2 linked regions of the Homo sapiens genome follow. The protein of the gene in region 2 interacts with the protein of the main gene of each other region in a biochemical or structural test. Each region holds a gene or a part of one and is shown on either strand. Other genes may lie near its edges. The genes, in order: ERCC6 and MORC3.

Region 1 (3,818 bases), on a different chromosome or scaffold from region 2:
GACCGATACTCCTTCTCCACGTCAACGAGCTGGGAGGCACGGCTGGCCTCATGGATGGCATTGTCCACCTGCTGAAGCACTCCCTGTTCCAGCACGTCCTGGTCATAGACGTCCACACCCAAACCCTGCAGCTCAAGGGCCTGGGCGCTAGGCTCTACTGCCTGGATCTGATGTCGGTCGATGTGCAGCAGGGCTGGCCCTCTCCTCGGAGCTGCTGATGCGCACCCCACAGCAGAGGTGGACAGCCCGTCACCCACAGAACGAAAGGAGAGGTACTCCTCCACCTCCCCATCACCACCACTTTCTTGCTTGATTGCCATTTCTTCATTATTACTGACAGGTTGACTCTGTAAACAGTCTTGCTCCTGAGTTTGACTTGAGTGGGGGATTCCCTCATTTGGCATTCTCTACAGACTACCTAAAAGGAAAAAAATTTATAAGCCTTTTCGTTATATAGGATTCATTGTAGTTCTTAAATATTTTATAATTAGAGCAGACTGATTTCTCAAAAGATCAAGTAATAATCTTCCAACTACATAAATTCAAGTTTCCAAGTATTAATTTACTAAAAAGGGACAACGTATCTTCTTGAGTTCTGATAATAAATAAGAAAAATTAACCAGAAAAAGAAATGCAGTATCATCAACAAAGGACATTTAGGCAGCCAGCTAAGAAAGCCAGCCACCAAAATCCTGGGGTGATGGCCATGGAATATTCTTCAAAACAGCTGAAGTCATTTGGCTGCTGTTTTCCAAGTTAGCATCTTCATTTCATTATGACACAAATGATTTATAATATAGTGGCAAGATCAACTGTAATGCATAGGAACAGCGATGTTAGGAAAGAGCTTCTGTGTGAATCTGAGACTAGAAACTCCTAGGCTGAATACCTATCCAGTAAATAGGAGCTTTGAACAAATCAGAAGCTCAGAAGATTAATTAGGCCAGGCACGTGGCTCAGTCCTGTAATCCCAGCACTTTGGGAGGCCAAAGCGGGAGGATAGAGACCAGCCAGGGAAACACAGCGAGCTCAGGACTTCGAGACCAGCCTGGGAAAGATAATGAGACCTTGTCTCTACTAAAAATTTAAAACCTTAGCCAGGCCTGGTGATGTGCACCTATAGTCCCAGTTACTCAAGGGGCTGAGGCAGGAGGATCACTTGAGCCTGGGAGATGGAGGCTGCAGTGAGCCATGATTGCACAACTGCACTCTAGCCTGGGCAAAAGAGCAAGACCTTGTAAAATAAATTTAAAGTTTTTTTAAAAGATTAATTAAAATATTCTCAAAAATAGGCTGGGCACGATGGCTCACATCTGTAATCCCAACACTTTGGGAGGCTGAAGCGGGCAGATTACTTAAGGTCAGGTGTTTGAGACCAGCCTGGCAAACATGGTGAAACCCGATCTCTACTAAAAATACAATAATTGGCTGGGTATGATGGTGAGCACCTGTAATCCCAGCCACTCGGGAGGCTGAAGCAGGAGAATCACTTGAACCCAGGAGGCGGAGGTTGCAGTGAGATGAGATCTCACCACTGCATTCCAGCATAGGCAACAGAGTGAGACTCAATCTCAAAAAAAAAAAAAAAAAAAAACAAAAAAAAAACTCCATTTTAATACACAGTATAATTTCTCACCCATCAGGTTAGCAAGAATTCAAAGCCTGATAGATAAATCCAATACAGACAAGGAGAAGGATCCCCCCTCACATAGTGCTGCTGAGAATATAAATTAGTAAAGCCCCTTGTAGGGACAACTTAGCAATATCTATTAAATTAAAGGCACATGACCTTTGTCAAGCAATTCTAGGTATTTATTCCAGAGAACTAGTCACACACAGGTGCAAGAATGTTTAGTGCAGCACATTTTTAATAGTTTAATGTAACTACTAAGTATATTCTGTATACTGATATAAAAGCCATGTTAAGTGAAAAAATTCATGGTATGAACACACTTATGCTGAAAAAAGTATCTATCCTGCACACAGAATGATCTGGCAGGATACAAACTAAGCCTGCAAATCAGGATGGGGAAGAGAAAGCACAGGGAAAAATAAGGGGGAATGTTCACATTGTACTCCACATACTCAGGACCTGCTGCTTTAAGGAGAATATATTCACTATATTACCTATACAACTATCACATCTAATAAATATATTAAAAAGCAAAACGATAACCAAAAATCAGTCTTGCTTTTTGTTTAACTGTGAATAAGATTTCTTTGAGCACTGTAACTTTTCTGTTAAATGACAAGTTCCCCCAGTGGGCCCCACTCATCCCTTATTAAGTAAAATAAGCCCAGCAATAAAGCACCGGGATACAAAGAATTCAGCATCATCTACACCCGAGTGGCTATCCACTGGAGCAGCAGCATGTCAGTTAACAACAGAGCAGGGCAGGTCAGCTAGCCCGGGACACGGACAAGAGGTCACACGAGCATCGAGCGAACTATATATGGTGTCTGGGGCCCAAGAAATATCACGGAGGAACTGAGATTTGAACACATGGGCCATGCATGGTCTGATATATAGGAGGTGCTCAATATCTGCTGAAAGGAAGTGAGGTTCAGAGCTAAGTCTAAAATAATAAAAAGTTTGGTCTGGACAAATGAGTCACCAGTGAATTCAGTCACAAAAATGAGACTCTCAAAAAGGAAGCAGATAGGAAGCAGGACTGGCAAGCAGCTTACATGTAATCAGTACCATTTGCAGCATGCAGTCAGAAATGCAAATCTGAGCTCAAGGGAAAGTCTGGGTGACATGTGGACACATCAGCAGAGTGAGCAGTTCCAGGGTTCCCAAGGCTCTGACAGGTACCTAAGGTCATTTTGGAGGGTACGAGGAGGCTAACATTGGAAAGGTTAAAAAGTGAACAACACAGTGAGAAAGTTCCTTCTTTTGGGGCCTGCTGATTATTTTCAAGAGGAAGGCTCAGCTCACCTCACTTTCCAACAGAGAGAGCAGGATTCCAGCTCAGAGTGTCTGTACTAGCTGGCAGTTAACAATTCTGTTTTCATTTTTCTTATTTGTACACACATGAGGATTTCTTTTTAAGAAAAAAGGATGCCAATTCAACCAAAAATATTAAGTAACCATTTTTCTATTTCTGTAAAATAATATCAAAAAGCAATAGTATTGTAGTGTAAAGACAAGGTTAAAAATAAAGAAGTTTGGGGAAAACTTCTAATAATAAAAAAGGAGGAAGAGCGTCCAGTGAATGAGAAAAGGCTGAGTGAATTTGGATACCAATGGGTCACCATTTACCTTGGTAAAAGAAGTTTCAGGCCAGGCTTGGTGGCTCACACCTGTAATCCCAGCACTTTGGGAGGCCAAGGCGGGTGGATCACCTGAGTTCGTGACCAGCCTGACCCAACATGGTGAAACCCCATCTCTACTAAAATACAAAAATTAGCCAGGCGTGGTGGTGCATGCCTGTAATCCCAGCTACTCGGGAGGCTGAGGCACGAGAATCGCTTGAACCCAGGAGGCAGAGGTTGCAGTGAGCTGAGATCACACCGCAGAACTCCAGCCTGGGCAACAAGAGTGAAACTCTGTCTCGAAAAAATAAAAAAGTTTCAGTGGAGCGATAGGGCCAAAAACCAGACTGTAGTGGTTGAAATGTAGTTGGTGTGTAAGGAGTGGATGAGGAAATGGAGGCCACAAGAGAGTGGCCTGTCCTTTAAAGAGCTTGCCTCTGGCAGGGAGACAGCTACAGTGATAAAGTAATAATGGATTTGTTGGGGGTAGGGAGAGAACTAGGGCAAGAAAAACTAGAGCACGTAATGGCTGGAGGGAGACAGAGGAGATAACCCAGAAAGGT
Region 2 (3,818 bases):
TTAATTGATTATCTCCTGGATCTGGAAAGAAAAAAAAAAGGGAATGGCCAGGTGCGGTGGCTCAGGACGGGTCTGGTGGCTCACACCTGTAATCCCAGCGCTTTGGGAGGCCAAGGCTGGTGGATCACCCAAGGTCAGCAGTTTGAGACCAGCCTGACCAACATGATAAAACCCCATCTTTACTAAAAATGCAAAATTAGCTGGGCCTGGTGGCTCATGCCTGTAATCTCACCTACTTGGGAGGTTGAGGCAGGAGAGTTGCTTGAACTCAGGAGGCGGAGGTTACAGTGAGCTGAGATCAGGTCATTGCACTCCAATCTGGGCAACAAGAGCGAAACTCCGTCTCAAAAACAAAAACAAAAAAAAACAAAAAAAGAAAAGAAAAAAGGGAAAAGAGGATTCTCTACACAATGTACATTTTTTTCCACAAGAGACAAACTTTGCAAGGCAATTTCAAGATATGACAAGGAAATCTATTTAGAATTATTTTTATTTCTTTCCTTGTTATGTGATGTTACGCCAGAGCAGTATAATGAAGCAGGTCTGACCCCAACTTCCTGTCATGGCCTGAACTAGTCTTTCAGATTAAATGTTAAGAGTGCCCTGGCTGAGAAGGAAGTCCATTAAAATGGTTGGAAGAGCCTTAGAATTTTATTTTTGGTTTATACTACCAAACAAGGAGAAATTAGTCAACTACTATAAACCCTTAGTCTCCTGTACTTCTGACAGACCAACCATAAATTGGGCATTCACATGATTCCCCTCATGTTTGATAATGTGCTATAATGCTCACAAAACCCAAAAAAAACACTGATTCATTGTAAAGCAAGCCTGTCCAACCCTCAGCCCCCATGGGATGCATGTGGCCCAGGACAGCTTTGAATGCAGCCCAACACAAATTTGTAAACTTTCTTTTTTTTTTTTTGTTTTTGAGATGGAGTCTCGCTCTGTTGCCCAGGCTGGAGTGCAATGACATAATCTCGGCTCACTGCAACCTCTGCCTCCCGGGTTCAAGCGATTCTCCTGCCACAGCTTCCCAAGTAGCTGAGATTACAGGCAACTGCCACCACGCCCAGCTAATTTTTTTGTATTTTTGGTAGAGACATGATTTCACCATGCTGGCCACGCTGGTCTCGAACTGCCGACCTCAGGCGATCCGCCCACCTCGGCCTCCCAAAGTGCTGGGATTACAGGCATGAGCCACCCTGCCCGGCCTGTAAACTTTCTTAAAACGTTATGAAGTTTCTTTCGTGATTTTTTTTGTTGTTGTTGTAGTTCATCAGCTATCGTTACAATTTCTTTTTCTTTTTTTTTTTTTTACCTCATCAGCTATCGTTAGTATATTTTATGTGTGTGTGGCCCAAGACAATTCTTCTTCCAATGTGGCCCAAGACAATTCTTCCAATGTGGCCCAGGGAAGCTAAAAGATACAATGTAAAGGATATTACAGACTGGGCCCAGTGGCTCACACCTGTAATCCCAGCACTTTGGGAGGCTGAGGCAAGTGGATCACCAGAGGTCAGGAGTACAAGACCAGCCTCGTTGACATGGTGAAACCCTGTCTCTATTAAAAATACAAAAAATTGGCCAGGCGCGGTGGCTCATGCCTGTAATCCCACCACTTTGGGAAGCCGAGGTGAGTAGGTCAACTGAGGTTAGGAGTTCAAGACCAGCCTGGCCAACATGGCGAAACCTTGTCTCTACTAAAAATACAAAAAATATCCAGGCGTGGTGGTGCGCGCCTGTGTCCCAGCTACTGGGGAGGCTGAAGCGGGAGAATCACTTGAACCCAGTAGGTGGAGACTGCGATGGCGCCACTGCACTCCAGCCTGGGCGACAGAGGGAGCATGAACTAAGGTGTGGTTAAAAAAAAAAAAAAAAAAGGCGGGGGGGGGCTTATTATTATAAATAACAAAAGATGTTCCACTCATAGTTATCAGGAAATACCAAAGATTTCAGGAACTCCAGTGCCAAGAACCAGGACAAAGAACAAATATACATTTTTGATCATATCAAATGTATGTAAATGTGAAATAAAAAATATAGGACAGCTGGGCGTGGTGGCTCACACCTATAATCCCAGGACTTTGGGAGGCCGCGGCAGGTGGATCATTTGACGTCAGGTGTTTGAGACCAGCCTGGCCAACATGGTGAAACCCCGTCTCTACTAAAAATACAAAAATTAGCTAGACCTGGTGGCACACACCTGTAATCCCAGCTACTTGGGTGGCTGAGGCATGGCAATCACTTGAACCCAGGAGGCAGAGGTTGCAGTGAGCCAAGATCATGCCACTGCACTCCAGACTGGGCAACAGAACAAGACTCTGTCTCAGAAAAAAAAAAACAAAAAAGGAGGCCACTGTTTTGGACTAAGCTCCTGCTCTAGGCCTCCAAAAACAGACTAAAAATCAAAATGGAGTCACCCATGCTAAAATTTCAGTCACCAAACTGAAACTAAGTTGTTATCTGACCTTCAGCGAAATCAAGGGAGATAACAGCCAATTTACCGAACAGGTCAGTTTCAGTCATCAACTGGTATGACAGATAATAAGTTCCCTCCATTTTGTTGTTTTACAACAAAAAGTAACCTAATGTCAGTCAGTTATTTATCTATTGTTTTTAACTTTGAAATGACGTATCTGCTTTTTGTTCTTTGTTTCTGCTTTCTTTCGGCCTTTTTCTGTCTACAAAGCCAGCCTCCTCTGTTCAGTTCACTAGAACACTTACTGTATTTTATGGAAGAAGTGTTGCCCAATTCCAGAATAGGAAATAAAGGCCAAGCACGGTGGTTCACTCCTGTAATCCCAGCACTTTGGGAGGCTGAGGCGGGCAGAACACTTGAGGTTAGGAGACGAGCCTGGCCAACATGGCAAAACCCCGTCTCTACCAAAAGCCAAAAAAATTAGCCAGGTGTGGTGGTGAGCGCCTGTAATCCCAGCTACTCAGGAGGCTGTGGCAGGAGAATTGCTTGAACATGGGAGGAAGAGGTTGCAGTGAGCTGAGAGATCTCACCACTACACTCCAGCCTGGGAGTGTCTGTCTCAAAAAAAAAAAAAAAAAAAAAAAAAAAGAAATAAAGCCAATTAATATCTTTAAATTTAAATTTGAGGCCAGGCGCGCTGGCTCACGCCTGCTGTAACCCCCGCACTTTGGGAGGCTGAGGTGGGCGGATCACCTGAGGTCAAGAGTTCAAGACCAGCCTGGGCAACATGGCAAAACCCGTCTCTACTAAAAATACGAAAATTAGCCGGGCGTGGTGGCAGGTGCCTGTAAACCCAGCTACTAGGGAGGCTGAGGCACAAGAATCGCTTAAACCCGGGAAGCAGAGGTTGCAGTGAGCCGAGATCGCACCAATGCACTCCAGCCTAGGCGACAGAGCGAGACTCGGTCTCAAAAAAAAAAAAAAATCTTTAAATTTATAATGTTGTCTTCTGACATACAATAAAATATTCACCTTAAGCAAACAAGGAAATCCTAACGCACACTACAACATGGATGAACCGTGAAGACATTAATGAATAAGGCAGTCACAAGTCAAATATTGTATAATTCCACTGATAGGAGTACAGCAGTCTCCCCTTATTCTCAGAGAATGCATCTCAAGACCCTCAGTGGATTCCTAAAACTGCAGTATACATATGTATGATAAAGTTCAACTTATAAATAAGGCACAGTAAGAAATAAACATTTTATTATTTATTTATATAGAGATGGAGTCTTGCTCTGTTGTCCAGGCTGGAGTGCGGTGGTGTGGCTCACTGCAACTTTCACCTTCAGGTTCAAGCGATTCTCCTGCCTCAGCCTCTGGAGTAGCTGGG

What was found.
Region 1: the proteins of MORC3 (region 2) and ERCC6 form a complex in vitro, tested with the Homo sapiens proteins (one large-scale study listed by BioGRID).

The regions. Positions count from the first base shown.
Region 1 is NC_000010.11:49,532,561-49,536,378, forward strand, and holds part of ERCC6 (DNA excision repair protein ERCC-6), read right to left. Parts: intron 419-3,818; 5' UTR 405-418; coding exon 1-404. UniProt on the Homo sapiens protein: Involved in repair of DNA damage following UV irradiation, acting either in the absence of ERCC6 or synergistically with ERCC6. Involved in the regulation of gene expression.
Region 2 is NC_000021.9:36,326,408-36,330,225, reverse strand, and holds part of MORC3 (MORC family CW-type zinc finger protein 3), read right to left. Parts: intron 319-3,818; exon of another isoform or gene 233-318; intron 1-232.